Regions from separate parts of the Homo sapiens genome. Here region 1 is linked to region 2. The links come from fine-mapping of genetic effects on gene expression. A gene starts in region 2. The other region holds a variant in brackets. All regions are shown on one strand. Distances are between the middles of the regions.

The links. PIP is the estimated chance that this variant, and not a neighbour inherited with it, causes the effect.
Region 1: its variant is the best candidate, but not a certain one, in a credible set for the expression of IL19 in testis (GTEx, PIP 0.87).

The regions. Positions count from the first base shown.
Region 1 is chr1:206,841,615-206,844,582 of GRCh38, forward strand. It overlaps IL19 (interleukin 19), which reads left to right. Exons shown (of 7, transcript NM_153758.5): 7 at 913-1,367. The coding sequence ends at 1,008. It overlaps LOC105372878 (a long non-coding RNA gene), which reads right to left and starts at 1,207. Exons shown (of 3, transcript XR_922482.3): 1 at 895-1,207; 2 at 1-104. The variant A/G (reference allele first, on the strand shown) is at 1,266.
Region 2 is chr1:206,769,749-206,772,248 of GRCh38, forward strand. IL19 (interleukin 19) reads left to right here and starts at 1,025. Exons shown (of 7, transcript NM_153758.5): 1 at 1,025-1,330. It overlaps IL10 (interleukin 10), which reads right to left. Exons shown (of 5, transcript NM_000572.3): 2 at 1,608-1,667; 3 at 1,159-1,311; 4 at 81-146. RefSeq lists an enhancer at 1,186-1,375 and cis regulatory regions at 2,375-2,500, 2,457-2,500.

The DNA.
Region 1 (2,968 bases), 72 kb after region 2:
AGCCTGAGTTTCTGCATTTAGATCACACTGTCAAATGATACCAATGCTTTGAAGAGCAAGAGTTAGGGAGTCTGTTATGGGCTCTGCTTCTTTGTGGAGAGACTCTGTAAGATAATGTTATAGAAATAGCTAAGAGTTACATGGTTCTTACTATAAGCCAGGTATTGCTCTAGGCACACAACAAGTATTAACACACATTCGTCCTTCCCAACAATGCTATGAGTCATTATCTGCATTGGATACATTAAGAAACTGAGGCTCGAGCAGGTAAAGTAACTAAACTAAGTTCACACTGCAACTGCACGGCAGAGGTAGGATTCAATTCCACGCTGGCTGGCTCTACAGGACGCGCTAAAAGCATGAACTCAGTCTGCTGAGGAAGGAGGTGGAATAAGGCAGGAGACTTGGGTTTCATTTCCAGCTCTGTTACTAACTGGCTGTGTGACATTGGGTAGGACACTTGCTCTAGGGGCTTTAGTGCTCTAATATGTCAAATGAGGACAACATGCTCTCCCTACCCACTGTCCAGCACCTCAGGGACAAAGATGTTCTGGGATAACAGAAGCACTAAAGCAAGCTGGTGTGGAGAAGAAAATCAGCGGAACTGGCCAGTAAGGCAGATTTTTTTTTCCTGTGAAAAACAGAGGAAAAAAAAACCTGAGGGAAAAGAATGAAGAATTTTAAAGTTCTGTTTATAAGGAGCTGACATAATTTAACTACTTGTTTGTGGGGAAAAAAATTGGTTGCCTGCGAGGAAAATAATATTGAGTCTGTATGTTATGCAAATATATTTCGTGACAAAAAAACAAAAACAGAAACAAAACCTTGTGGGAACCAGCATATGAAGAAAGTGACTTGAAAACCATTACACAGTCTAGAAAGGTGGGTTCTTACATTGATCTCTGATTTCAGCTGGAGGTCCACGCTGCTGCCATTAAATCCCTGGGAGAGCTCGACGTCTTTCTAGCCTGGATTAATAAGAATCATGAAGTAATGTTCTCAGCTTGATGACAAGGAACCTGTATAGTGATCCAGGGATGAACACCCCCTGTGCGGTTTACTGTGGGAGACAGCCCACCTTGAAGGGGAAGGAGATGGGGAAGGCCCCTTGCAGCTGAAAGTCCCACTGGCTGGCCTCAGGCTGTCTTATTCCGCTTGAAAATAGCCAAAAAGTCTACTGTGGTATTTGTAATAAACTCTATCTGCTGAAAGGGCCTGCAGGCCATCCTGGGAGTAAAGGGCTGCCTTCCCATCTAATTTATTGT[A/G]AAGTCATATAGTCCATGTCTGTGATGTGAGCCAAGTGATATCCTGTAGTACACATTGTACTGAGTGGTTTTTCTGAATAAATTCCATATTTTACCTATGAATGGAAGGATCTTTTCATTCAGGGAGAGTCAGTCAAGACTGAGGACAGGGTGTTTCTGACAGAGGGATGGTTGTCATGGTGACAAAGCTGAACAAGCACAGACACAAGTAAGTAGAGAGGCCACTGGGTAGAGAGGCTGAAAAGGGTACCAACATCTAGATGGACACTGCATAGATGATTCAGAGCACAAATGTGTATCTTTCAGATTTCATATCACATGCTTTAATGGAAAGAACAAGACCTCTGAAGTCCAATTGATCTGGTTCCAATCCTATGTGACTTTGAACAAAGCACTTAACGTTTCTAAGACTCAGTGTCCTCTGTTGTAAAGTGGAGATATTAACACCAGTCCTGTAGTGTTGCTGTGAGCATCGAGTAAGGAAAAGGTCTCTCATGACCTCAGCAGGGTGGGAGACAGCACGGTGCAATATAAAGACTGCCGACTCAGGGGCCACCTTCTGGTTCTAAGGCATCTCCTGCCATGAATTTCCCAGGGCAGGTCAGTACATTTCTTTGGTCCTTAGTTGTTAGTATTGTGGATACTGACCCTTCTGTACTACCTGCTCCATATAATTATTTATTTATTTATGGAGACAGGGTCTCACTTTGTCACCCAGGCTGGAGCACAGTGGCATGGTCATAGCTCACTGTAGTCTCAAACTCCTAGCTCAATCAATCCTCCCTCCTCGGCCTCCCAAAGTTCTGGCATTACAGACTTAAGCCACCACACCTGCCTCTATAATCATTTAAAAGCTGGAGTCATTATGAGGGCTTTGACAACCCTGATATCTGCACACACACCCCTCCTGGCTGTTTTCCCTAACTGTGTCCCTGCTCCTTCCCCAGGCTCACTGTGACCCAGCCATAGTTGTTTGCTCTGTGTTTCGCAAACACACCAGGCATGTTCTCACCATACAGTGTATGCACTTTGTGTACATGCACACTCATAAACTGAGGTAGGGTTAAAAAATAAAACAAACCCTCCACACATTATGCGTTAATGGGATTCATACGCTATTAGGGAGCAGGGTTGTTTGCTGAGGACCTAACTTTTCCAAAGTGACCTTGGATGGGCACCCACCCTGAGCAGGCTGGGTGATGGCAGTTATAGCATTTCTGATCTTTTATCACTGCCCTGGGATGTGCTTCCCCTGGACACCTGCATGGCTTGCACCTCCACGTCTTTCAGACCTTCACTCCAAAGGTCTCGTATTGGAGGATAACCCCCCATTTCCACCTTCAGCACACTTTGTACCCCTTTCCTGTTTATCTAGCATCCTATTTTGTTTATTAGCTGCTCCTCCACATGAATGTAAGCTTCATGAGTGTAGGGATGGTTTAGTTTGTTCACTGCCTGGCACTTAGTAGGTGTTAAATTCACAATTCACCTAGATTATTTATTCAAGAAATGTGAATAACCACAAACATGTATATAGTGCTTCCTATATGCCAGCCGATAGTCTAAGAAATACACTTCTTGTAATATAATATAATATAAATACATATATATATATTTCATTTAATTCTCACAACAATCCTATTGTAGGTTTTTAGAATGAAATAAAATGAAAAAGGCCACCTCATTGATTGTTAGCAGTATGG
Region 2 (2,500 bases):
CACCACCTTCCATGCTTTGGGGTTGGGGAGTGGGCATGGGTTGTGCTCTGCAGACCCTCTCTGCCACCATCCAAGCTCACCTTATTAAAGGCATTCTTCACCTGCTCCACGGCCTTGCTCTTGTTTTCACAGGGAAGAAATCGATGCTGTGGAAGAAAAGAGAAAGTGTTGGTGATCCTGGCTTCCAGCTCCATGTCCATCACACTTAGGGGACAAGCTGGTGGCATCATGAGGAGGCCAGATTTATCCAAATGCCTTGCCTCACAGCTCCCAGAGAGAACTGAGCCCTGCTTCCATGGCCCTGGGAGTTAAATGTATTTCTCCAGGACTCACTCCAAGATGTTTGCAAGGCTTGGATGACAACCCAGGTCTTGGGATTCCTTCCTCCCCCAGAACTCTACAGTATCTCCTGCAGTGCTGAGCGAGGCATTCTTCAGCCTGTCCTTTTCTGCCTCTCTCTCCTGTTCCTCCCCGTCAGTCACAGCCACCGAGGAACACTTCTAAGCATCTGAGGAGGGAAGCTACTGGGACCAAACCCTTCACATAGCCTTGTCCTACAAATAGACACCAACTGATTTTCCAATATTGGTGACAGAACAGGGGAAACCATTAGTAGTGAGGGCATCATTTCAGTTGGAGAAATAAATTACCTGGAGGAATTACTCATAGACACTAGCCTGGGGATGAATAGCCCCCTTGTCCCTTCTAAAATGCCAGGGGAAATCCTGTCAGTCAATTGGGCCCTTCTTAGAGCTTTGCTTTCAAAACATTGAGATTAAAAGAGGTGAATGATGTTTCCTCTGCTTGGGAACCTTAGCTCCCCGCCCAGGGTCTAGTTACAAAGAGGCAGTGGAGGCCTGACTGAAGCTCTGGGCTCCTTTTATGAAGAGAGAGGGGAGTAGTTAATAACCCACAAATGACTCACAAATAACAGGAAAGCTGTTTGCAAATTTCACATGTAAATGCCTAGCAGCCACCCCCAACGCCTGCTCAAAGAGAAATGAGCAAGAGATCTGACTCCAGGAGTCTTTCCTCATTTACAGCTAGCTCTGCCAGTCTGTGTCTTTGCTGTGTCTGTGGATGTGAGTGTCCCTGCTGGTCTGTAGGAGATGGTATTTTGGGGGCAGCTGCAAGGGAAAAAACTGATCTGCTACTTACACAGCGCCGTAGCCTCAGCCTGAGGGTCTTCAGGTTCTCCCCCAGGGAGTTCACATGCGCCTTGATGTCTGGGTCTTGGTTCTCAGCTTGGGGCATCACCTCCTCCAGGTAAAACTGGATCATCTCAGACAAGGCTTGGCAACCCAGGTAACCCTAAGGGCAGGAGCCAAAGGTGAGTGAGAGATTGGCGGAGGTGGCTGGGAGGAGGGGCTGCTGCAACTAGCTTAAGAGGACAGCTTGGTTCTAGCGATCCTCCTTCACCAGAAGCCTCCCCGAAGGGACTGAGCCCTTTGTAAACCCTCTGGCTGCTGGATGTGCTGAGTTAACATCTTCCCACTTCTCCTTTTCAAAGCGAAGGAAACAAACCCAATTCCCTGCAATCAGGAAGCAGAGTCTCCCTTCCCTTAATCATGCTGCACACTCCCCCAGCACCCCGCCCCTGCTCTCACCTTAAAGTCCTCCAGCAAGGACTCCTTTAACAACAAGTTGTCCAGCTGATCCTTCATTTGCTGCAGGAAGAACAAAAGGAGAATGAACTTGAGGTTTGGGGAAATAACTGAAATGCGGTCTTTTTGATGCCCTTTCATTTAGAGATTTTTTTTTTTAAATAAAATTGGCTCTGGCCCAAAAAAATCAAAAGGGGAGTTTTAAAAACAGAGGATTCAACAGTGATGGGACCATCACTTAAATCAGGTCCTCCTCCTCAGAGTCAAGTTATTTAAAAAATCTGGCCGATTTTGAAGGGAAAGCAGAAGCTTGACTCAGTCCTGGTCTTCTTTCTGCGGAGCTACATTCGGCTTTAAGGGACACCTATGTCAACCCTTCGGGGCCTTGAGCCCCCCTCATGTCCTGTTCTCTGCTTTTCTTTCTCCCCACTGTAGACATCCAGTTTAGCTTGGAAAGATCCCAGGGATTAAGAAGCTCCTTCTAATGCAGGTTTCCCTCATGTAGAGTGCTTCCCTAAACCACTGGTCTTTCAGGTCTGGAAACGCTCTAAGCAGAGGCAATTTAAATTTCCCTGCTGCAAGGCATGGGGAGCATCTTCACCTCGAATCAGACATTTCTTTACTTCTCCTAGCCAATAAAGTATAGAGCGCCAGCAGGATCTTATAAGTTTCTCAGCACGAGAGAGAACGCATTTACTTTATAAGGCAGGTTTCCTGCACATTTACTGTATCATCTGGCTTAGCTTAACTCACCAAACCCATGGCTTGATCTAGGATTCTCTTAAGAATTTAAGTTTGGGGGAATAGGTGTTGGGGATGGAGGTGGAGGCGCAGGAGGAGGGTTCTTATAGTTCCAGGAGAATGTCTAGTTCAGGCAGTCCCAGGAAGAGAGAAAG